Homo sapiens: one gene and its partners. The protein of the gene in region 7 interacts with the protein of the main gene of each other region in a biochemical or structural test. Each region holds a gene or a part of one and is shown on either strand. Other genes may lie near its edges. The genes, in order: PIDD1, ERG, GZF1, LTF, NPM1, PRKCZ and NCL.

Evidence for each region.
Region 1: the proteins of NCL (region 7) and PIDD1 form a complex in vitro, tested with the Homo sapiens proteins (one study listed by BioGRID).
Region 2: the proteins of NCL (region 7) and ERG form a complex in vitro, tested with the Homo sapiens proteins (one large-scale study listed by BioGRID).
Region 3: the proteins of NCL (region 7) and GZF1 form a complex in vitro, tested with the Homo sapiens proteins (one study listed by BioGRID).
Region 4: the proteins of NCL (region 7) and LTF interact in a biophysical measurement, tested with the Homo sapiens proteins (one study listed by IntAct).
Region 5: the proteins of NCL (region 7) and NPM1 form a complex in vitro, tested with the Homo sapiens proteins (one study listed by BioGRID).
Region 6: of the proteins of NCL (region 7) and PRKCZ, one has a biochemical effect on the other in vitro, tested with the Homo sapiens proteins (one study listed by BioGRID).

What each region holds. Positions count from the first base shown.
Region 1 is NC_000011.10:798,684-802,231, forward strand, and holds the end of PIDD1 (p53-induced death domain-containing protein 1), read right to left. Parts: coding exon 3,512-3,548; intron 3,408-3,511; coding exon 3,282-3,407; intron 2,942-3,281; coding exon 2,762-2,941; intron 2,683-2,761; coding exon 2,535-2,682; intron 2,438-2,534; coding exon 2,302-2,437; coding exon of another isoform or gene 2,230-2,301; coding exon 2,079-2,229; intron 1,984-2,078; coding exon 1,860-1,983; intron 1,769-1,859; coding exon 1,650-1,768; intron 1,562-1,649; coding exon 1,448-1,561; intron 1,332-1,447; coding exon 1,132-1,331; intron 883-1,131; coding exon 624-882; 3' UTR 501-623; downstream 1-500. UniProt on the Homo sapiens protein: Component of the DNA damage/stress response pathway that functions downstream of p53/TP53 and can either promote cell survival or apoptosis.
Region 2 is NC_000021.9:38,386,978-38,390,477, forward strand, and holds part of ERG (transcriptional regulator ERG), read right to left. Parts: intron 1-3,500. UniProt on the Homo sapiens protein: Transcriptional regulator. May participate in transcriptional regulation through the recruitment of SETDB1 histone methyltransferase and subsequent modification of local chromatin structure.
Region 3 is NC_000020.11:23,365,182-23,368,681, reverse strand, and holds part of GZF1 (GDNF-inducible zinc finger protein 1), read right to left. Parts: coding exon 2,935-3,500; intron 1,680-2,934; coding exon 1,585-1,679; intron 1-1,584. UniProt on the Homo sapiens protein: Transcriptional repressor that binds the GZF1 responsive element (GRE) (consensus: 5'-TGCGCN[TG][CA]TATA-3'). May be regulating VSX2/HOX10 expression.
Region 4 is NC_000003.12:46,458,406-46,461,905, reverse strand, and holds part of LTF (lactotransferrin isoform 1 preproprotein), read left to right. Parts: intron 1-2,086; coding exon 2,087-2,250; intron 2,251-3,500. UniProt on the Homo sapiens protein: Transferrins are iron binding transport proteins which can bind two Fe(3+) ions in association with the binding of an anion, usually bicarbonate. Lactoferricin binds to the bacterial surface and is crucial for the bactericidal functions.
Region 5 is NC_000005.10:171,397,849-171,401,348, forward strand, and holds part of NPM1 (nucleophosmin), read left to right. Parts: intron 1-2,304; coding exon 2,305-2,362; intron 2,363-2,990; coding exon 2,991-3,077; intron 3,078-3,500. UniProt on the Homo sapiens protein: Involved in diverse cellular processes such as ribosome biogenesis, centrosome duplication, protein chaperoning, histone assembly, cell proliferation, and regulation of tumor suppressors p53/TP53 and ARF.
Region 6 is NC_000001.11:2,147,911-2,151,410, reverse strand, and holds part of PRKCZ (protein kinase C zeta type), read right to left. Parts: intron 2,540-3,500; coding exon 2,487-2,539; intron 622-2,486; coding exon 433-621; intron 1-432. UniProt on the Homo sapiens protein: Calcium- and diacylglycerol-independent serine/threonine-protein kinase that functions in phosphatidylinositol 3-kinase (PI3K) pathway and mitogen-activated protein (MAP) kinase cascade, and is involved in NF-kappa-B activation, mitogenic signaling, cell proliferation, cell polarity, inflammatory response and maintenance of long-term potentiation (LTP).
Region 7 is NC_000002.12:231,457,985-231,461,484, forward strand, and holds part of NCL (nucleolin), read right to left. Parts: intron 2,883-3,500; coding exon 2,685-2,882; intron 2,581-2,684; coding exon 2,494-2,580; intron 2,459-2,493; exon of another isoform or gene 2,384-2,458; intron 2,310-2,383; coding exon 2,168-2,309; intron 1,142-2,167; coding exon 1,017-1,141; intron 406-1,016; coding exon 282-405; intron 1-281. UniProt on the Homo sapiens protein: Nucleolin is the major nucleolar protein of growing eukaryotic cells. It is found associated with intranucleolar chromatin and pre-ribosomal particles. It induces chromatin decondensation by binding to histone H1.

The DNA of each region.
Region 1 (3,548 bases), on a different chromosome or scaffold from region 7:
TTGGGGCTGGGCGCAGTGGCTCACACCTGCAATCCCAGCACTTTTGGAGGCCGAGGCAGGCGGATCACTTAAGGTCAGGAGTTCGAGACCAGCCTGGCCAACATGGTGAAACCCCGTCTACTAAAAATACAAAAATTAGCCAGCGTGGTGGCAAGTGCCCTAGTCCCAGCTACTTGAGAGGGTGACGCAGAATCGCTTGAACCTGGGAGGCAGAGGTTGCAGTGAGCTGAGATCATGCCACTGCACTCCAGCCTGGGTGACAGAAACTCCATTTAAAAAAAAAAAAAAAGTAGCCCATGTGGGTTACTTTGTAGCACAGCTCCTCCCTCCCAGGAAGATGAGGACCCACAGGAGGCCCCAGGCACAGTGGGAGAGGACAGGACCAGGATGTGGGGCACCTGTGCACACAGGCCTCCCTCCCCGCAGGGGCCAGGCCTCTACCCCACCACCCTCCGCCCTCCAACGGCTTCTCCATCCAACAAATAAATCAAGCTCTGAGGTGAAAGAAACAGTGCAGTTTTGTTGCTCACAGGGACCCGTCCCCACACACTGGAGAGACTTGAAGGTGGGGGCTCTGCCCATCCACTGGGGAATATCTGGGCCAGCCTAAAAGTCTGTGGGGCCTAGGCCTGGGCAGGCTCTGGGGGCTGTGGAGCCGAGGAGCCAGGCAGAGCGGGGTCCTTGGGGGCCAAGCCCATGCGTCGGATGCTGTCCTGGTACTTGCGGCGGCCGAGCTCCAAGACTGCGCGCACCTCTTCAGCCACGTCCTGCCGGTCACTCTGCTCCAGGGCCTGCACCAGGAGCCCCACAGCCCCTGGCTGCCCAGCCTGGCGCTCAGCCCAGGAGAAGAGCATGTGACGGATCTGCTCATCCAGATCATCCCTGCAGGCAGAGGATGGGCGACAGAGGGGTCCTGTCCACCTGCCCAGGACCCCCCACCACACTCTGCCTCGGAGTGTGGGGGAGTTCCCGGCTCCTGGGGCCAGGTGCGGCCAGACCTTTCCTTTCCAGCCTGGTGTTTGCCCTTCCCCCACCTCCCCTGGAAGAAACTTCTGTCAGAATCAGGTGGGCCCTCCAGGCAGCCAGGGCTCAGCCCTGGGGCTGGCAGCCAGCGGGCAGTGGGAGCCTCACCGGAACTCGTGCCGGATGCGCTGCACCTCCCGGTAGGACACCCCCAGGTGCAGGGCCACGGCTGGCCAGTCCAGACCCAGACGCCCAGCCACACTCAGCAGGTTGCTCTGCGTCAGAAAGCCGGTCTCGGCATCTCCCAGATTCAAGGGTGCCAAGGAGAGGCCAGCCCCCCGCCGTGGCCCCTCGGACCCTCGAAGTCTCTGTTGGAAGGAAAAAGTGCATTAAGCCCTGGGCTCCACCCCCAACTCCACCATGTCACCCTGGTCACCCCTGGGCCTCGGTCCTGCCCCGCCCCTCTGCTGTCCCTCAGTCCCACCGGCAGCTTGATGGGCAGAGTGGCCATCCACAGGGCGTCTGCGCCCTTCCTCTGCCGGGCAGCCTCAGCCTCCTCGGGCACCCGCACAGGCACCGCGCCACGGTAGAAGGACACCTGAAGGGGCATCGAATGGGGTTCGGAGTTCGGTCCTCTGCCCAAGCGGCCTGGGGGGCCTCTCCCCTCACCCACTCCCCTCGCCCACCTGGCCCCGCACAGCCTGAGCCTCCCGGTCCAGAGTGGTGGTCACGTATACCTCCTTCACATTCTTCAGGTGCGAGTAGAAGACAAAGCAGATTCTGCCCTCCACACAGTCAGGGCGGTCTAGGGGACAGGGGTGGGCTGAGCAAGGAGGGCTCGGGGAGGACGGTAAGGCTCCCCCTCCAGGGCAGGGAGCATCCACCAGCATCCCTACCAGCATCCACGTCGATGCCGCGCTCGAAGGCCGCAAAGAACTCTTCGCCCTCGAACATCTCCACCGTGTCAGAGGGCTCGGGGCCCCGGTACCGCTCCAGCAGCCGCCGAAGGGTGGCGTCCACCTGCGGGGAAGCCCGTGCAGCTCAGGACCCAAAGCTCTGCACCCCACCCCAGCCCTCTGGTCACCACCCTGCTGCCCTCCGGCCCGTGCCCCCACCTTGTTTCGGGGCAGGCACTGCAGCAGGACCTGCTCAGGGTCCCGGCGCCGCTGCAGAGCGATGAGGTTCACACGGTGCAGCCGCAGCCGCTCCCAGGCCTTCCGAGCCAGGCCTCCCACACAGTTCTTGGTGGTGTACCAGAGCCAGTACCTGGGAGAGCTGGGGGTGAGGAGGGCTGTACAGACTGGGGGAGGGGGGCTGAGAAAGCTGGGGGGCACTGACCAGGAGAAGTGTGTGACCTGGAAGCGTGCGTACAGGTGGGTGAGCTCCAGGACCACCTGAGCTGTGATGTCATCCCAGGTGGCTGCAGGAGGGGCCCAGTACAACAGGTGCAGGCGGGAGCGGTCCAGACTGAGGCCTGGGGATGGGAGGGGCAGCGAGCTGAGGCCTCCTGGCCGGAGACCCCCTCCACCCTATGGCCACAGGTCCAGGTATGCCCCATGGCTGCCTCTCACCTGTGATGCCAGAGGGCAGAGGCAGCTGCACGGTGACCGGTTGGAGGAAGCTGGGGGGACCGCTCTGTGACAGGCACAGCAGGGGGCTCACTGCAGCCTCTGGTTCTCCCAGGAGGGCCTGCAGCTCTCGGCCAGCCATGCGCACCACCTGGGGCAGACAGGCCCCCTGAGCACCTGCCTGTGGGCTGAGGCGCGGCCTGCCACCCTCAGTGCTGTCCTGGCCATACCTGCATGGAGACTCGACGAGGCTCCTCAGTGGCCCCAGGGGGGAAGATGACTTTGACCCCAGGATGACCCGAGGAGCACAGCAGTGTCCCCTCCGGTGGCACCAGGCAGGCATTGGACACAGGGCGGGAAACCACAAGGAACCAGGAGAAGTGGGGCACCTGGCAGTGAGCCCAGAGCCGCTGGGATGGGGGAGAGAGGAGGTCACAGGAGCCTGGGTCAGGGCACAGCCAGTCAGGGACACAGGGAGCAGGATCCAGGAGAGACGGGGCGGGGTGGAAGGTGCCAGGGACACAGGGAGCAGGATCCAGGAGGGACGGGGTGGGGTGGAAGTTGCCAGGGACACAGGGAAGCAGGATCCAGGAGGGACGGGGTGGGGTGGAAGGTGCCAGGGACATAGGGAAGCAGGATCCAGGAGGGACGGGGCAGGGTGGAAGGTGCCAGGGTGAGGCTCTGGGCAGAGGTGCACGGCTCAGGGCAGCAGCTCTCCACTCGCCACCGGCAGGCCTGGGTGGCCCTCACCTGGGGTGCCTCTTCCTCCAGGTAGGTCTCCAGGTCACCCCAGCTGTTGTCATTCCGGGTCCTGACCACCACTTCACGGCAGCGCCGGGCCTGCGGTGGGGTGAAGAGCAGCCACAGCCCCACATCCTGCCAGACAAGGATGGTGTGAGCACTGGAGCCATGCCCGGGCCCGCACACTGCCCCTGCCATGCCCTGGCCCACACACTGCCCCCGCCACGCCCTGTCCATGCCTGCTGGAAGGCCACCCCATGGGGCTGCAGCTCCAGC
Region 2 (3,500 bases), on a different chromosome or scaffold from region 7:
CTCCTTTAATTTTACAGAGGAAAGTAATCTCCTAATATTGTTAAAAGAAAGGGAGAGAAACAGGGTAGCAAAGGGGTACAGACTGAGCAAAAAAGGGGGAAAAAAAAACTAAACGGTTTACAAACCACAGAGCAAAGCAGAGAGCTGCAGAGTGAGTCAGCAGCTGTGTCTGGTGGAAACAGCATCCTGGTGCAAAGCCCTGCAGCCGTCAGCTGATGAACAAGGGCAGTAAATACAGCCGTGAGGGGCCCCACCAGTACCATGTGGCAGTGGTTTGGGGCCACTTTCTCTAGAAGCCAGGGGTGGTGCAGAAGATCCCGTGTGCATGGCCTGGACCCTCTGCAAGGCAGCAGGTGTGTCCAGCAGGTGTGTCCTGAATGGAAGTCTCTGCCCCGAGGCTCAGTGAGGCTCAGGCACCACTTACTGGAGGGGCAGGAAAGCATGGTGGTAGGGAGCACCAACTTTGGAGTTGCCACTGCTTCAGCTGAATCCTGCCTCTGCCCTTTGTGGGACGTTTGGCAACTCTCGCAGCTCTCTCTGCCTCAGTATCGTCATCTGTAAAGTGGGGGTGATGGTAATAGTACTATCTTGCAAGATCATGGTAAGGATGAACTCAGTACTTGAATGGTCTTGTCAGAATTTCTTTGGGCTGAAAATCAGAGTTTAAGGAAAGATAACACTCCTCTCCTATAGCCAGGAAATGCCTAAAGAAAGAGAAATACTGTTCAATTGGCCTATTGAACCATGAAGAAGCTTGAAACGGTGCTATTCTTGGGCTGACTGATATCCTCTGAAAGCTTACTGTGTGCCATGCACCATTCTAAACGCTTTACATGTATTGGTTTATTTAATCCCCACAGGAATCATGTGATTAGTCCATTGGAGAAGTGACGAAATTGGAGCTTAGAGAGGTAGACTGACTTATTTTGCTTAGCGTTGGCAAGGGTTGAAATCCAGACTCTAGGCTGCCATGCTTAATCACTGCGCAAACTTGCTTTCAGGCCTGGTTTATGCACACCTCTGTAGCCTCCTCAGGTCCTTTCCATGTTGTCCCCTCCCTGGGGGACTCCCACTGGAAGACTGCACACTGCCACCTCCTAACAAATGGGAAAACATCCCTAGCCTGGTCTGTCGTTCTGCAAGAGGCAGGATGTATTTTCATGTGCACCATTGAAGAGTATCCAGTTAGCATCAAGGAAGCCTCTGAACATAACCCACCAAAGCTCTTTCATTAGAGGAACCATGTTAGATAGATTCTCAGCTGCTCTGATGGGATGTAAAGGAGCTGTGTTGCTTATAACCGATCCATGATATCAGAATGCAGGGACACACTGTTCTCAGCAGGAAAAGTGATGTCCAAAGTACACATCAAGTGAATATTTGGGATAGAGATGTTGGGATGCTGACATCATCCTGTGCATTCATACTATATGATGCAATCTTTCCACTTAAAATGATGAAAAGGAATTTGTATTGTATGAAGAGCAAAGACAGCAATTTTTAAGTGATGAAAGATTTATTTATCAGAGAATAGAAAAATAGAATCAAACAGGAAGAAGCATTGTCATTAATACAAAGATAAAAGACATTCTGGTTTCAGGGGAAAAGTTCACATGAGCACAACAGACACAAACCTAAAGATAGATGGAGAGAAAGTCAAATTCATCAGAAACTAAATGAAATAAATCTTTATCTTAAAGTCACTTGCCTGCAAATCAAAGATGGGATGTTGCCATTTTCTCCAGGCCCATTAAGAACAGTCTTAATGGTATGAAGCACAGTCCTCCTTCCCCAGGCCTGTGATGAGTTTCCGGTCTCCTTGCTCTGAGCTCAGGTCCCTCTATCTACAAAGGGCATCCCCGGGCTGCTGGGCCCAGGGCATATGCAGTGTTCCCTTGTGAAAGCTGGCACTTTGCTTAGGAGCAAGTGACTCAGGCCCTATTCTACAAACAAGCCAAGCAGTACCTTTGGGCTGTGACAACGTGGTCATGGACATATATGTTTCATTTGGCCAATGTGTGAGTGCAAAGGCCAGTTTGGTCTTCTTTGGTGCAGCTTGACTCTTTCCTCCTCTTCCTTCCTGACCTCAGATTCATCGCCTGCACCTAAGCAGTTATGACCCTGAAAGGAAATCCTTGCTTTCTATTCTCACAGTCCGCATTTTGTAAGACCTCCTCTTCCCTTCATACTTAGTCAGTGGCAGAGTAGGGCAAGAAAACAAAAGTAGACTTTGCAGACAGAGTCAGGTTTCTAACCTGACCTCCCTTATCATTGGCTGTGTGACACAGGAAAAGTTACTTAACTTCTCTGGACTTCTAATTCCTTTTCTGTAGGATGGAGATAGTAACCTCCCAGGGCTGTTATGAGACACAGAAGGGACCACAGACATTCTATGGGGGGCATTCTGCGGGATGGGAGCTGTTTGATTGTTATTTCACATGATTGTATTAACATTCCCAGAGTGTTTCAGCTTCCGTCATTTTCTTTTTTCTAATCTATCCTGAACATTGCTGCCAGATCAGTCTTCCTGAAGCATGACTGATAATAATCATCTCAAAACATAGTCATTATTTTTATTTGAATGGTTATATGGCAGAGTTGCAAATGAAAAGCTGAGCAGAAGGCTGAGAAGAGACCACAGCCTCAGGAGCCTGGGCTACTAGATGAAAGCCAGCATGAGCAAAAAGGGCCTGTGGCTCTGTGTTTGGGACAATGTTGTAACTACCTGTGTCCATCTCTCCACGGACCAAAAGCACCCTGAGCTAAAGGACTATATCTCATTATCCTTGGCATTCATGTATGCAACAAATAATTATTGAGCACCTAGTCTAGGCCCCAGGCTAACTAGTTTTCTTTAGATTTTCAGCTGTGTAAAAAAAATTCATTGAATTCATTAACATTAACCAAAATTTAACTTCAAAAATACAGATGTTCAATAATGATAACATTTCGTGTTTTCAATGTGTAGATTCTCTTGCAGGGATGTACACTGATTAAATCTTAATTATTCCATTTCGAACCTTATTTTGGCCTCAACGTTTAGGAAATACACATTCCATCTTGTGCTTGCAATATGCCTGTAACATCTTGGCATTTGAATTTGCAGTTGGGAATATGCAGCATAGGCTATGAATTTCTGAAGCTGGTGCCAGCACAGCTGGTTCTGATCTGAATACAAACAAATAAAACTATGTGGTTGGCACTGAAACACTAGGACAGGTGACAAACCTTGGCAATGCACTGGTTACAAATGGGCTAATTAAGAATCTGCACTTTCTTCTAGCATCGAAGTTCAGAAACAGACCATCGAAGATGAGCCTGAATTTGAAGTCTTGTGGTTGTATCAAGGCTCTCTTTTAAAAAATACTAGTTATTTTATCTGCTTGTATAATGGGTTGAATTGTGTTCCCTCAATTCCCTATGTTGAAATCTTAACCCGCAGTATCTAAGAATGTGACCTTTTTTGGAGATAAGATCCTAAATGAGGTAATCAAGTTATA
Region 3 (3,500 bases), on a different chromosome or scaffold from region 7:
CCACGTGAACTCAAAAGTGCCTTGGTAGGCAGCATGTTACATTTTCCAGTAAAAACTATCATAAAATATATATTCATGTAAGATGCTTGCTACTTACTGAAAGTTGGTGTAAAATATCCTTGGAAATTGCAAGAAAAATTCCATTTGACTAGAATCAAAGAGGTATTGTTTGTTCAGCTGGCTCACATTTTAGAAATTTACTCATTCCAAACAAGAAAATAATTTCACAACTTCTGTTTGGAGGAACTGCTGGATTATTTTCAAAGGAACACTTCTATGGATCTTTATCAGAATAAAGGGGAAGTTGACAATGGATATATATCACTATTCTAGAGTAGCAACTCCAATCAACTTGATTGAATTGTAGGACAAGAGTTTTAAATATCTCACTTTTTGTAGTTTAATCCCACAAATCAGACTTACCAAATTATTAGCTGTGCCCGATTTCACAGACATCAAAATAAAAATAGTGACTTTAATAAAATCTTACCATGTTAATATTATCAAAGGACCAATTCTAACTTAATCCTTCATTATAACCTGACCTTGTCCCCAATCCCAAGCTTTCTTTAAACAATTCTACTCATTCTGTAGTCATAATGCATGTCATTAAATGCTAATTTCATGACATTAAATGAGATTTTCATTCAATGACATGAATTATGACTTCAGAATGAGCAGAACTGGTGTCTAATCACACAGATGTGGTGTCTAATGAGTCAGAGACATGTCATCTCTGTCTCACATGCATTTGAACTTGAGGCTTGTAAGCCAGTGTTTACAGGTAAGAATAAAAAATGCAAGCAAAGAAGAAACTGAGAAGAATTGGAACACTTCAGTGCTGTATGCTTCTGTATCTTCCACAAGATTCTAAACCTCAGGGTTACTGTGCTGAAGCAGAATAAAGCCAACTTAAGTTTTATCTGTCACATAATTAATAAATCATAAAGACTTTGGAAAACAGAAATGAGATAATCCTACTACCTTAATGTATCATATAACAACTTATTTTCTTCTGGTCTTTTATGTGCAGGTTTTCAATACAATTGAGGTTAACTGTATGCTTAATTGTGCATTTTAAAGTTGAACATCCAAGCACAGACTTTTTCATGTCATTCAGAGCCCTTACTCTGAATAGCCGGGTCATAAGCCAGGGTATAGATTTACCAGAGTTGACTAGAGCACTTCCTTGTAGTTGGACAATCAGGCTGTTTCCCATTCTTAGTTAAAAATAGCAAGAAGGGGGATAATAGCATACAGCTCTTCCCATATGTTGGACAATTTCTTTAGGACAGAGTCTTAGAAAAAAAAATTTCGGTTACAAAAGAACTATTTTATATCTCTTGATACCTAAGACCTGCATGCCAGATCCTATGGCCTGGTGGTATAAAAGCCACAGCCATGTGCACACTAGCAACAAGGCAATGGGTGTATGTTTATTCATTTTGCTCACTTACTAGATGGAAAAGCTATATCATGGCTTTAACCTGCACCACCTTGGTAGATGCCAACTTCAAAATTAATCAATTGCATTTCCTTCTAGATCTAGGAAAGACATTCAATCACAACAGCATGAGTATTTACCTGTGTGACACCTTTTATGATAAATCAGCATGTGGTTCTGAGTGAATCTTGCACCACATTCATCACAGACAAAAGGTTTTTCCCCTGTATGAATTCTGAAAGTACAACATTCAGATGATAACTTAGGATGTATTTCAAAGCTCACTTTGCAATACAATTTCCACTCTATCCTGCAAAAATCGTTTACTCCAAGAGACCTAATGAGAATGACTGTAGTGACAGGTCAAGAGCCCATAATCTCCATCCCAAAATAAACTGAGTTTCTGCACAAGGTCAATGGATCCACACATTTTCCATAAATCACTGACTGGAATGTTCATCTACACCTGATCACAAGCCCTACTGCTGATGCTATAAGGCATGTGCAGGTAGAGACCAGGCCTTTGCAGATTTTTTTAAACACTAAAGACCACAATCTGATATTTGTAAAGCTGTCTCATACAGAATAATCAGCCACAAACACCTTAGGAACTACTGCTGATTAAGTGTCACATGATCAAAAATGTTACTCTCATTTCCTAATATGACATCACCAGTAGAGAAAGGAGAACTGTTCTCAAATTGCCGAAGGTGGCATTTTTAAAATGCATAAGCATTTTAATGTCACAACTAGTATGAAGTAGCAATCAAACATAATTTACTGAGCACTTCCTAAACCAAGTATTTTTAACTTATTATATAGAGTAAAAAATGAACACCATGCTGCTAACCCAAGACTGACCTAGGTTTGAGGGCAGATCTAGAAGAGAAGAGAAAACAACTGCTTGTTGGGATTTCAAGAATAAATATACTAAGAACTATAAGAAAACTTATTTAAAAACATCACCACACACCTGCAGCTCAGAAACATATTAAGAAACAGAAAGCACTGTCTGTCCTGATTCTGGAGTGCAGACTGCCTAGATGGCACTCCTTCCAAGCCTGAGAACCAAAAGACCAGAGACGAGTCCTAAAGCCTGAAATGGCATCTCACTGAGGTCTCTACTGAGACTGTGGGACCCGGATGGTCACAGAACCCCAAGATCTAAACGAAGAGTCAGGAAAGGAGAAATAAAGGTAACGAGGCCCAACTCTTCCTCCAGCACGGTGGGGCGAGCCCGCGGCCGCTGTCGCGGTCCCACCAGAGGGACGTCCCGGCCAGCAGGGGCGCCCCAGGGGTCTCAGAACAAGGGAGCAGAGCCATCACTCGCAGCCCCTGTACCTTGACAGAGAACTAAACGCTGTCTCGAAATAAGCCCCCAGGTTTGGAGCGGAGAAATTAAGCAGTGAGACATCAAATCCCAGGACGACCTCAGTGCTTGACACACCCTTCCAGTGCGCAGGGACCCCTCCGGACGGCTCCCCGCGTACCTCATGTGCGTCTTGAGCGCGGACGGCTGCGAGAACCTGGCGCCGCACTCGGTGCAGCCGTAGGGCCGGTCTCCCGTGTGTGTGCGCTCGTGCAGCCGCAGCGCTGTCTTGGAACTCAGGCCCTTGCCGCACTGGCCGCAGCGGTGCCGCTCGCCGCCGCCCTCATGCACCTGCAGCACGTGCCGCTTCACGTCCTTCTTGCGCTTGAACTTCTTCCCGCACAGCTCGCATGGGAAATGGCGCTCGCTGCTGTGCACGTGGCGCTGGTGGCTCTTCAGGTTGCAGCGGTTGGCGAAGGTCTGGCCGCAGGTGTCGCAGCGGTACACCACCTCGGTGGCCACGCCGTGGCGGTGCTTGCTGTGCTTCAGGAAGCTCTTCTCATACAGAAACGCCTTCTCGCAAATGCTGCACTTAAAGTTGCTCTTCTTCTTCTCCCCTTCTTCGTCCTCCTCCTCCTCCTCCTCTTCCTCCTCCGGCCCTGCTTTCTTTGACAATTCCTCCAACTCAGCACCTGCCTGGCAACCCTCATTTTTGGAAACCTGCTCCATCTCCGTGCCCACCCTGTC
Region 4 (3,500 bases), on a different chromosome or scaffold from region 7:
GAACATTCTACCCCATAGCACATCCAAAGGGCAGAGGGCTTTTACAACTGTGTGTTTATTTTGTTTTTTTGTTTGTTTGTTTTTTGTTTTAGTTTTTGGTAACAGCTTTACTGAGGTACATTTTCCATATCATAAAAAATCACCTATTTGCGTACAATTCAATGAGTTTCAGTAACCTTACCGAGTGTGCAACTATCACCATAAATCTGTTTTAGAACACTTTTATCCCCCCCAGTAAAGGTCCCTCATGCCTGTTTATAGTTAATCCTCATTTCTACCCCAGCATCAGACAACCACTAATCTATTTTCTTGTCTCCATAAATTTGCCTTTTCTGGACATTTCATTCAAATGGAATCATACAGCATGTGGTCTCTTGTGTCTGGCTTCCTTCACTGAGCATAACTGAGGCTCGTTCATGTTGTGGGGCATGCCAGTAGTTCTTTTCACTGCTGAGTAATATTCCATTGAATGGATGTACATTCACCAGTTATTGGACATTTAGGTTGTTTCCAGTTTTCTACTATTCTAAATAACACTGCTATGAATATTCATGCACAAGCATTTATGTATGATAGGTTCTTATAATATTTCTTCTGGCTATATGCCTAGAAGTGCAATTGTTGGGTCCTATTGGAACTCTGTGCTTCACATTTTGAGAAGCTGCCAACCTGTTTTACAAAGTGGCTGGTCATTTTACATTCTCAGCAATGTATGAGGGTTTCCACTTCTCCACATCCTCATCGATATGTGTCATTGTCTGTTTTAGCTATTATAACCTGTTCAGTGGCTGTGAAATGATATTTCGTTGCATTTTCAATTTGCATTTTTGACTAATGATATTGAGCACTTTTCATGTGCTTATTGTCCATTCATATATCTTCTTTGGTAAAATGTCTGTTCTTATCATTTACCCGTCATGTACTAAATCCTTTTTGATGTTATACTATCTAGCATTATGTTCTTAATTTCATTTTTAGATTGTTCTGTGCTGTATGCAAAAATATGATCAATTTTTGTATATTGATCTTGTATCCTGTGGCCTGGCTGTACTTGTTTATTAATTCTAATAGTACTTTGTAGATTCTTCAGTATTTTCTACATAGAAGATCATGTTATCTGAAAGTAAAGTCAGTTTTACTTCTTTCTTTCCAATATGGGTGTCTCATTTCTTTTCTTGCCTTATTGCTGTGACTAGAATCTCTAGTACTGTTGAATAGAAGAGTTGAGTGTGGACACTCTCTCATCATTCCTGATCTTAGGTGGAAAGCAGTCAGTCTTTCACCATTTTAGTATGATGTTCATTGCAGGTTTTTTGTGGATGCCTTTTATCAGGCAACCAGGTGAGTAAATTCAATGCATCTTCCTCCCTAATTACATGGATTTGAGCAACAAAAGCAGGCTCAAAAGAAGAACCAGTATTTGAGCAAAAAAAGCAGGCTCAACAGGAGCACCAGTCTTTCTGTGCAGAGTGAATGGTGGTAGCTCAGGCACACCAACCAACTGATTTGTCCCCATTGACACTGACTTACCATTTACCTCAGCTACCAACCGACTCAGGTATATTTTCCCCTGTTCTCTTGGCATTCCCTGGGAAGAGATTTATGCACAAAACAATCTAGAGAGACGTGGATTCTCAGCTGGGCTCTGCACTGCTGAGTGGCGAGTCACTCAGCCTCCTTAGGAGCCAATTTCCACATCAGTAAAACAGGAGCAATGACTCCTTTCCTGCCTACCTTCCAGGTTCAAAGTGGGCAAAGCTGGTAGAAGAATTCCATAACTGATCTGGGGGATCACCATCATTTTTTAAGTGGTAGGAAACATGTCAAAGTCATAGGAATGAAAATAATCTAGAGGGACTTTCTCCTTTAATTTATTGAGAACCACAGACCTCTAGCCAATGCAGAGATCCTATTAGTCCAGCAAGATGCCTCCACTTGTGGAGAATGGCTGGACATAGCCATGAAATGGAGAGGGAAGGAGGGCAGCCGAGAGAGAGGGAGGAGTCTGGAAAACTCCATCAGAGGGTGCGGTGGTCACGCCCTCAGTCAGTGGTTGAATCCTTACTCCTTGGCCCCTCTCTCCCAGGACTGTGTCTGGCTGGCCGTAGGAGGAGTGTTCAGTGGTGCGCCGTATCCCAACCCGAGGCCACAAAATGCTTCCAATGGCAAAGGAATATGAGAAAAGTGCGTGGCCCTCCTGTCAGCTGCATAAAGAGAGACTCCCCCATCCAGTGTATCCAGGCCATTGCGGTGAGTCAATGCCGGGTGTTGGTTGGGACCAAGCTGAATGGAAGGGAGAGAGAAATGGAAAAAGATAGAACACGAGCTCTCCTTACTTCCTCTGCTTCACCTGTTGGGCAACGAAGTGGGGAGCCGTCCTCTCTCACAGGGAACTGTGCTATTTTCAGAGCAGAAAGGAAGGAGCTTAAGTCAAGAGACCATGTGTGAGGAACCTGGAGCCTCCACATAAACTATAATAACAACTGTTATTCATTAATAACAACTGTTCCAAAATGAAATGTAATCAGTTGTATTTGATGAATACATAGGATCAGCAAAAAGCAAAGTTACTCAGAGAGGGAAATCCTCCAAAAGAGTCATGACCTCTAAACCCTGTGAGAAAGAAGCTTGTCCTGGTCACCGTTGCCACATCACATGGCTGGGGCAGGGCCTGCCAGGGTGCTGGGTGTTAGAAAGACTTTTGTCCAAGACACTTTCAGAGAGAGAGAAAAGGGTATCATGACTTGTATATGATTTCTGATTCCTTTTATTTTTTGAGATGTAAGATCTACTGAAATGATTTTTACTCATTCATTCAACAAATATATTCTGTGTACCTGCCATGTGCCATAATCATGTGTACTCAACTCCAGCAGAGTGAATAATTTGCATAAAAGTTCCCGAGGCAACTTCATAGGATTATCTTATAAATACAATGGAGTTATTAGAATAGCACTTAGGGAAAAATCTAGTTTAATCAATGTTTTAGGCTATTATTTTACAACTATTACCTGCATACAAACAGTACCAGTGGCTGGGCGCGGTGGCTCACGCCCGTAATTTCAGCACTTTGGAGGCCGAGGTGGGAGGATCACCTGAGGTCAGTAGTTCAAAACCAGGATGGCCAACATGGTGAAACCCTGCCTCTACTAAAAATACAAAAATTAGCTGGGTGTGGTGGCACATGCCTGTATTCCCAGCTACTTACAAGGCTGAGGCAGGAGAATCACTTGAACCCGGGAGGGGGAGGTTGCAGTGAGCCAAGATCATGCTATTGCACTCCAGCCTGGGCGACAAGAGCGAGACTCCATCTCAAAAAACAAAAAACAAAAACAAAAAACCAGCACCAGCATCTCTTGCTTGTTTAAAATGCAGATTCCTAGGCTCTATTCTAACCTACTCAATCTGAATATATGTGAAAGAAGCCACAAAATCTGCCTTTTAAAATAAGATCCTGTCCAAGGCCATACCACGCTGAACGCGTCTGATCTCGTCTGATC
Region 5 (3,500 bases), on a different chromosome or scaffold from region 7:
AGTGATGTGATCTTGGCTCACTGCAACCTCCTCCTCCCTTGTTCAAGCAATTCTTCTGCCTCTCCCAAGTAGTTGGGATTACAGGCACCCCCCCCACCACGCCCGGCTAATTTTCTGTATTTTAAATAGAGACCGGGTTTCGCCATGTTGGCCAGGCTGGTCTTGAACTCCTGAGGTCAGGCCCGCCTCGGCCTCCCACAAGTGCTGGGATTACAGGCGTGAGCCACTGCACTGGGCCCAAGAATTCTTTATGTATTCTGCAAACAAGTCCCTTATCAGACACAAGATTTACAGATTATCTTCCACCATTCCGTGAATTGTTACTTAACTTTCATGATGGTGGCCTTTGAACAAGTTTTTAATTTTTATGACGTCCGATTTCTTTTGTTGCTTGTGCCTTTGGTGTCAATCCTAAGAAATCATTGCTAAATTCAAAGTTGTGAAAATTTGCCCCCTTAATTCTGAGTTTTGTCCTTTATATTTAGGGCTTTGTTCCATTTTGAGTAAACTTATGTGTATGGTGTGAATGGAGGGGTCTAAATATAGACTTTGGATGTAGATTAGCAGTTGCCCCAACATGATTTGTTCAAAAACTATTTTTTCCCCATTGAATGATCTTGGCAACCTTTAAAAGAGTCACTTATGGCTGGGTGTGGTGGCTCACACCTGTAATCCCGGCACTTTGAGAGGCTGAGGCAGGCGGATCATGACCAGGAGATTGAGACTATCCTGGCCAATTTGGTGAAACCCTGTCTCTACTAAAAATACAAATTTTAGCTGGGCATGGTAGCGTGTGCCTGTAGTCCCAGCTACTCAGGAGGCTGAGGCTGGAGAATTCGCTTGAACCTGGGAGGCAGAGGTTGCAGTGATCTGAGATTGCACCACTGCACTCCAGCCTGGCGACAGAGCGAGACTCCGCCTCAAAAAACAAAAAAATCACTGTTTCTGGACTGTTCTGTTGATGTGTCTATCCTTAACATGTAAGAACAGTACAACACTGTTCCTCTGTGGTTTTTATTTATTTATTTTTTTGAAATGAGTCTCACTGTCACCCAGGCTGTAGCACAGTGGCGTGATCTTGGCTCACTGCAACCTCCGCCTCCTGGTTCCTCCTGCTTCAGCTTCCTGAGTAGCTGGGATTACAGGCGCCCGCCACCATGCCCGGCTAATTTTTGTATTTTTAGTAGAGACTGGGTTTCCCCATTAGCCAGGCTGGTCTCAAACTCCTGACCTCAGGTGATCTGGCCGTCTCGGCCTCCTAAAAAGTGCCGGGATTACAAGCGTGAGCCACGGTGCCTTGGCCCCTTTGTAGGTCTTATAGCTGATTTTTTGAAATCAAGTGTGAGTTTTCTAGCTTTCTTCCTTTCCAGATTGCATTTGGCCTCTTTGGGTCCCTTAAGTGTCTTTTTTGTTTTTGTTTTTTGAGATAGGGTCTTGCTCTGTCACCCAGGCTGGAGTGCAGTGGCAGAATTACACAGTTACAGTTCACTGTCTCAAGCAGATCCTCCTGCCTTAGCTTTTCAAATAGCTAGGACTACAGGCGCACACCACCACGCCTGCTAATTAAAAATTTTTTTTGTAGAGAGGGTTCTCATTATGTTGCCTAGGCTGGTCTTGAACTAAAACGATCCTCCCACCTCAGCCTCCCAAAGTGTTAGGATTATAGGTGTGAGACACTGTGCCAGTTCTTGGGTTTGTTTATAAATTTTAGGATCTGTTTCTACAGAGAAACCAGCTTGGGGAGTCTTCTAACGATTGTATTTAACCTGTATATTCGGGGAGTGTTTCCATCTTGGCAATATCTGAACATGGAATGTTTCTATTTAGGTCTTTAATTTTTTTTTTTAACACAAATTCACTCTGAGTGTACAGTTTAATAGAACTATACATTACTTAAATATACATACATTATACAGTGGTATAGTGTGTATTTATGCAAAACTACTCATTGAGCAACTTCATTTCCCAGCCCCTAGCGATCACAATTATACCTTCTATTTCTTTGAGTTTGACTACTTTTAGATACTTAATGAATAGAATCATACAGTGTTTGTTCTTTTGTGGCTGGCTTATTTCACTTTGTTCAAGGTTCAGTCATGTAGCATGCAAGAGGATTTTCATTGTGTGTACATATACATTTTCATTTAGTCATTTAACACTTGGGTTGCTTTCACCTCTTGGCTGTTGTGAACAATGCTTCGATAAACATGGGTGCACAAATAATCACTTCAAGGTCCTGCTTTCAATTCTTGTGTCTACTCCCAAATTTTGAAAGTGCTTAATGTCTTGACATTTCATTTGTAGTGATGATGATGATGATTTTGATGATGAGGAAGCTGAAGAAAAAGCGCCAGTGAAGAAAGTGAGTAGATACAATGCTACAAGGTTGTTAAACTAACAATAGAAATGGTGATTTTTTAGTGCTATTTGCTTGTTTTGTAGTTAAGGGAAGCTGGTGTGGGAGATCATCTCATACTGAAAATTAGTCCTGAGGAGGATTACAGAAAACTTAAGAGTGGGGAATGGTCTGTTTTCTTTATCCATGTGGCCCTCCACCCAGTTTGTTAGTCTTGTGTAACCTTTTGTCCAAGTGGTTGCTGCTTTTTCCTTCCTTTTTTTTTTTTTTTTGAGACGGAGTCTCAATGTCACCCGGGCTGGAGTACAGTGGCGCGATCTCAGCTCACTGCAACTTCTGCCTCCCGGGTTGAAGCGATTCTCCTGCCTCAGCCTCCTGAGTAGCTGGAATTACAGACTCATGCCACCACACCCAGCTAATTTTTGCATTTTTAGTAGACCACCATGTCGGCCAGGCTGGTCTCGAACTCCTGACCTCGTGATCCACCTGCCTCGGCCTCCCAAAGTCCTGGGATTACAGGCATGAGCCACCACGCCAAGCCTGTGGTTGCTGCTTGTCTTACATGGCTTGGACAGCTTTGTTTGCACTGTTGTTGGGGTCAGGGACAGTGATTAAGATAAATTTCTAATTGCAGTCTATACGAGATACTCCAGCCAAAAATGCACAAAAGTCAAATCAGAATGGAAAAGACTCAAAACCATCATCAACACCAAGATCAAAAGTAAGTGGCTACATTTACACGTGGGTCTCATTGATCTAGTTGGGGAAAAAGATTCTACTGTGGAAGAATCTAGTGTGTCTGAAATTTGATAGGCCTTTATAGAACCCCTGTAATTGCTGTTTAAAAGTTAAAATCAGCTTGCTGCAGCCAGGCTCAGTGGCTCACTCCTGTAATCCCAGCACTTTGGGAGGGAGGCCAAGGTGGGTGGGATCACCTGAGGTCAGGAGTTTGAGACTAGCCCGGCCAACATCGTGAAACCCTGTCTTTACTAAAAACACAAAAATTAGCCAGGCATGGTGGTATGTGCCTGTAATTCCACCTACTCAGGAGGTGGAGACAGGAGAATTGCTTGAACCTGGGAGGTGGAGTGCAGTGAGATTGCACCACTGCACTCCAGCTTGGGCAAAAGAGCGAGACTCCGCC
Region 6 (3,500 bases), on a different chromosome or scaffold from region 7:
CGTATCAGTGGTTGGCCATACATGAGAAGGTTGCAGAGACCACGATACCCATCTTCACCTTTTCTAAGCTTAGACACGTGAGTGCTCTCGTGGTGGTCCCCTCACTGCCTGCAGTGTGCAGTGCACTAACAGCCGTACGGGCTTGCAGCCTGGGAGCAGGAGCTGCACTGTGCATCTTGGCTGTGGAGTTGGCTGTGCTGTTTGGGTTTGTGGAGTGCACACTGTGATGTTCACACAACAGTGCCATTACCTAACCAGGCACTTTCCAGAACACATCCTGGTCATTACACGATGCATGACTATTGATTTTGCACAAACTCCGTCAACGTGAGGCTAGGTCTCTCGTGCATGGATTAATTCCGCTAAAGCCCGGAGGAGGCCCCAGGGCAGCGCGTTCCCGGGCCCCCGGGCCCCATGAGAAGCGGCACCTACCTCGTCATCATGCACCAGCTCTTTCTTCACCACTTTCATGGCGTAAATTTGGTCATTCTTCTTCAACCGCACCAGGAGAACCTTGGCGTAGCTCCCGCGCCCGATGACTCTGATTAGGTCAAAGTCCTGCAGCCCAAGCCCCTGAGAGATTTTGATTCCATCCATCCCATCGATAACTGGCTTAAGGTCCTAGGGAGGGAGAACAAGACCCCAGAAAGTGAGAGGGGGGTTCCCGGGAGACTCAGAGGACCACGCATCACTCATGCGGTCCCAACAGAGACCTGCTCCTCAGAGCCCAGGGCCTCATGATTCGAGTCTCAGTTCTGCGTCCCACATATCCCACCCCCAAACTCCCATCTAAACTGGGGCATGAAAGGTAAGAATTTAAGGCTGTGTGCTTCTGAGGAAGGTGCTAGAAAGCTAGAAGCTGTTCGTTCCACAGACCATGGCTCTGGTCACAGCTGCAGGTGGGAGGGACCCCCAGGCCCTCAGCCCTATCAGTGGGGCTGAAGAGGTGGCCACAGGGACATGTGGCCCAGGGCCTGGGCCCATCCTTCCTGATCAGTGCCCTCCCTCAGGGGAAGGAAGGTAAAGCGAATGCAGCTAATGCCTGCCAAGAGCTCCCAAACCGGCAGGCACACATTATTAGAAATAATTATTAGAAATACCCAGGAGAAAGGCGCTCCGAGGAAGAACAGAAGCCTCTGCCTCCCGCAAGCTACACCTGGCAAGGAGGTCGGGGTGGAGGAGGCGGTTCCTTGGGAGGTGCTGTTCTGTGCGGCAAAATGGATTCTGCTTTTTTTTTTTTTTTTTTTTTGAGACGGAGTCTGGCTCTGTCGCCCAGGCTGGAGTGCAGTGGCACGATCTCGACTCACTACAAGCTCCACCTCCCGGGTTCACGCCATTCTCCTGCCTCAGCCTCCCCAGTAGCTGGGACTACAGGCGCCCGCCACCACGCCCAGCTTTTTTTTTTTTTGTATTTTTAGTAGAGACGGGGTTTCACCGTGTTAGCCAGGATGGTCTCCATCTCCTGACCTCGTGATCTGCCCGCCTCAGCTTCCCAAAGTGCTGGGATTACAGGCGTGAGCCACCGCGCCCAGCCGGATTCTGCTTTTTTTGAGACAGACTCTTCCTCTGTCGCCCAGGCTGGAGTGCAGTGGTGCGATCTCAGCTCACTGCAGCCTCCACCTCCCAGGCTCAGGCGATCCTCCCACCTCAGCCTCCCAAGCAGCTAGGACCACAGGCCCGTGCCACCATGCCCAGCTAATTATTTTGTATTTATTTTTGTAGGAACAGGGTCTCGCTATGCTGCCCAGGCTGTTCTCGAGCTCCTGGACTCAAGCGATGTGCGCAGCCTCCCAAAATGCTGGGATTGGAGGTGTGAGTCGCCGTGCTCAGCCTCAGATTCTGCTTTCTAAGTGCCCCGGCCTCCCTCCAGACACAGGATGGCCAGGAAGGAGCACGAGTTGTGAGGGTGACACTTGTTGGTGCTCTGGAAAGGAGTGGGCTTCGCTAGTGCAGTCCTTCCCTGGGTTTTACGAGCAGAGGCTGAGAACGCAGCAAGCTCTTCTGTTCCCTTCTCAGGGTTTATGGTGCAGAGCTGGCCACAGACGTGAGGCTCAGTTGAGCCTCTTGGCTCAAGTTGGGGAAGGACATGAAAGGGCTTCAGAGGGTTTGCCAGGATGGCCAAATGAGGCAACACAATTCGGAAGGCATGGTGCAGACACAACTTGATAAAAATTGCAGCTCAAAAGCCAGCCCCTGGGCCACTGTACCACCTGAATGGAGAGGATGTGGGGCACGGCTTCCCCCGCAGGGTGTGGTCCCCAGACCACCTGCGGGGACAGCTGCCTGCAGGTATTCATCAAGGACATGCCTGAAGTAAGACCCAAGAATAAGGACTTCCTTCTAGACATCCACACCCGTGAAGATTAGTTAGCAACACCCCGGACCATGTCTATTTCACATCTAGATTTCCGTGACTACCCCAGAGACAGGCTCACAGACTTTCCAGAGGACGTCGGAAATGGCAGCGAGCTGCTCCACACACTCACCTCCGAGTCGTCTTTAATGCTGTCATGCTTCCGGGATGAGGAAATGTAAGCAACTGGTGAGAGAGGGAGGAAGGAAGGGGCGTTACGGTGTGGTCAGGAACGCACTGGGAACACAGCGACCCTGTGGACCTTGCTCCTCTGCAGGGTGACGGTGAAGGGTGAATCCACACAGCAGCCATGTCTGATTCTAATTTAGAGTCTTCTGAAAATGCAGTTTCCTGGGCCCCACTCACACCTGCCGACTCTGACCATGGGACCTGGGGATGTACATTCGTGACATACGTCCCCAGGGGTCCATCTGCAAATAATTCGTCACCGGATTTTGGTGTCTAGTGAATGGGTGGGTAGGGGCAGGAGTGGATGTCTGGTGGATGGATGGAGGATGACTAGATGGGGGATGAATGGAGGCCTGGATAGAAGACGGATAGATGGAGAGGTCAGTGCACAATGGATGGATAGATGGAGAGGTCAGTGGACAATAGATGGATGGATAGATGGAGAGGTTAGTGGACAATAGATGGATGGATAGACGGAGAGGTCAGTGGACAATAGGTGGATAGATGGAGAGGTCAGTGGACAGTGGATGGACAGATGGAGAGGTCAGTGGACAATAGATGGATGGATAGATGGAGAGGTCAGTGGACAATAGATGGATAGATGGAGAGGTCAGTGGACAACAGATAGATGGATAGACGGAGAGGTCAGTGGACAACAGACGGAAAGATGGAGAGGTCAGTGGACAACAGACAGATGGGTGGACAGGTCAGTGGACAACAGACAGATGGATAGATGGAGACGTCAGTGGACAATAGATGGATGGATAGATGGAGAGGTCAGTAGACAATAGATGGATGGATAGATGGAGAGGTCAGTGGACAGTGGATGGATAGATGGAGAGGTCAGTGGACAATAGATGGATGGATAGATGGAGAGGTCAGTGGACAATAGATGGATAGATGGAGAGGTCAGTGGACAATAGATAGATGGATAGACGGAGAGGTCAGTGGACAACAG
Region 7 (3,500 bases):
TTCATAGTAACCTCACCTCACTGAAAGAACTGCTACTACTTACAAAGTATTTATTGTAAGATAGGCACATTTCTTGCTTCTTTGTAAGTATTAGCTTGTCTTTTAAAATCACCCTATGAGTACATTATCCCCATGGTACAGATGGGTTACTGAGGCACAAACTTACAGGTTAAACTGTCCAAGATTACACGCCTAAGGAAATCAAACCAATATTTCTTTTATAAAGCAGGAAAGTGCATTAATGTTAATAAAACCCTTACATTTCAATAGACAGAACATACCCTTTACTTTTCCCATCCTTGCTGACTAATCTGATCTCCGCAGCATCTTCAAACACTTCTTTCAATTCATCCTGAGTGACTTTGTAAGGGAGATTTTTAGCCAAAAGTGTTCTCGCATCTCGCTCTAGATTAAAAAAACAAAAATGAGCTCTGTGGCCTGAAAAACCAAAGGTGGGGGGCAACAACAAAAAGAGGGGAAAAACACACATAGCTCTATTCAACAAATAATTTGAGATCCTATAATGTACAAGGCTCGGTGCTAAATATGGAGATATAGCAGTGTCAACACACAAGTGGTCCCTCCATGTTGTCACAGCTGATGTCAAACTCTCTGTTAGGTACACTGGAGTTCAACCTAGAGTAGACGCGCATAACAAAAAAAGTGAATGTACCAATTCAAAACATTACAACTGTATATAGGGAGTAATTAGGGACCTAATCTAGTTTCAGTGAAGAAAGATCCCTTTACGTTAATTTAGGTGCATCTAATAATTCTTGTTCTGTATAAAAGTGCTCTTGCTTGCCTAACTCAGGAATTTACACTATAACACTGACAAGCAGTGCCAAGTACTCTTGTAAACACTGTAGCTCATTTAATTCCCACATTAAGAGGAAACCAAAGGAAAAAAATGATTTAAAAAAATAAGAGGAAACCAAGGGAAATGGGTTACAAAGCATTTTCCCTAGCAGTCTAGCTCCTGAGTTCATTGCATAATCTCATAAAGCCTTACATACCTTTCTTACTGTCTTTTCCTTTTGGTTTCTCTAGTTTAATTTCATTGCCAAAGACTTTCAAACCAGTGAGTTCCAACGCTTTCTCCAGGTCTTCAGCAGATTCAAAATCCACATAACCAAATTTCCTTCAAGGTGGAGAGGAGGGCAAAATTACAACAGGTGAAAACACAAATCAAAATCCACAATATGTATTCTAGACAAATGTGATGGTGCAAACAAAGATCACATTTTAAAAAGCACCCCTAGTATTAGCAAAACAAAGTCAAGGCTCTGCAAACTGCAGCTACAGAACAAGGTCTCAGCATGAAGATATGACATGCACATTCACGTTTGAGGTCTTCATCATGGAGCTAAATTGCTTATAAGAATTCACAGTAGCAGCTGACAAAAGAACACCTATAAGCACTAATACAGGAGAATCCTGTCTGGATAAAAGTATTCACTATGATGACTAGACAGGTCTAATAGTTTCAGGTACTTCCAAGAAAATAAACATTATTTTAAATTGAGACGGTGTCTCAATCTGTTGCCCAGGCTGGAGTACAGTGGCGCGAACTTGGCTCACTGCAACCTCTGCCTCCCAGGTTCAAGCGATTCTCCCACCTAACACCAAATTATTAAAACTTACTGGCAGGGTGGCTCACGCCTGTAATCCCAGCACTTCGAGAGGCCGAGGTGGGTGGATCACTTGAGGTCAGGAGTTCAAAACCAGCCTGACCAACATGGTGAAATGCCATCTCAACTAAAAATACAAAAATTAGCCAGGCATGGTGAAGTGCACCCGTAATCCCAGCTACTTGGGAGGCTTAGGCAGGAGAATCGCTTGAACCCGGGAGGCAGAGGTTGCAGTGAGCCAAGATTGCGCCACTGTACTCCAGCCTGAGCAAAAGCCAGCGTCCGTCTCAATACATAACAAAAACAACAAAAAAACTTACTAAAAATTATTCTGTGCTATACCAAGTTACGACTGATTATGGAAATTGCAACTTAGGGGATCTACAGTTTAATTCTAACTTAGTTCACTAATGCTAATCCTTGAAGATGTTTACAGTATTCATGTTTAACAGTAGCAGGCTAAAGTAACTGTGCTAACAGGGGAAGGAAAAGCATTAACAGACCCACGTGTATGTAACGTGCAGTGAAGCACTTACCTAGTCATACCAATTCTGACATCCACAACAGCAAGATCATTTTTAGCAAAAACATCGCTGATACCAGTTTTTAATTCAGGAGCAGATTTGTTAAAGTTTAGGTTTCCAACAAAGAGATTGAAAGCCGTAGTCGGTTCTGTGCCTGCACAAAAAAAGCTCAACTCAGTCTACTTGTAGTGTGGTAAAAAGTTAGTTTCCAAAGCAAAATTTCTATACACAGCACATCAGCACACTACAATGTAACATCAGGTTTCAGTATTAAGTCCCTTTGTTATTCATCATTTGTGCTGTTTATCTCCCCCATATCCCCTAATTCTGCAAGTTACCTTCCACTTTCTGTTTCTTGGCTTCAGGAGCTGCTTTCTGTTTGGCCATTTCCTTCTTTCGTTTTCCAGGTGCTTCTTTGACAGGCTCTGGACAAGATGTCAAACAATGTATCACACATCAGTAGCCACAAACACTTAAGTGCCTCCTTTAAACATAACTCATGTCGTATGTCAGAATCTAATTTAAGTACCTTCCTCCTCCTCTTCTTCCTCCTCCTCATCATCTTCATCATCATCATCTTCATCATCTTCGTCGTCGTCGTCATCCTCGTCCTCATCATCCTCTTCTTCATCTTCATCCTCAGCCACGTTCTTGGCTTTCACAGGAACAACTTTTGCAGCTTTCTTTCCTTTGGCTGGTGTAGTCTCCATAGCTTCTTCTTCAGAGTCTGAAAGAGAAGTCACCTAAAAATTGCAGCAATCTCCCAAAACCAACATCGGTTTTCAAATCTAATGTAAAGAAAATGCAATCCTGTCACCATGTTTAGTTAACAGTCATGGCAAGAATAGATCACTTGGGGCCGGGCGCAGTGGCTCACGCCTGTAATCCTAGCACTTTGGGAGACCAAGGTGGGTGGATCACCTGAGGTCAAAAGTTCGAGACCAGCCTGGCCAACATGGTGAAATGTCGTCTCTACTAAAAATACAAAAATTAGTAGGGTGTGGTGGTGGGCACCTGTAATCCCAGCTACTCGGGAGGCTGAGGCAGAACTGCTTGAACCCAGGAGATGGAGGCTGCAGTGAGCCGAGATAGCGCGCCATTGCACTCCAGCCTGGGAAACAGCAAAAGCTCCATCTCAAAAAAATTTAAAAAAAAAAAAAATCACTTAGAAACAAAATCCTACATTATAAAAAACACTAATAGAATGTGCTATTGAAATTTTCTCAAGAGGCACAAAAATCATTCATGGGTAATTAAGTCTAGCACACCACAACAACCCAGAGAATTCCCACAAGGATTCTAATCTCATCTCCAGGTTGTCGTGGAAGGAATATGTTGATCCCAG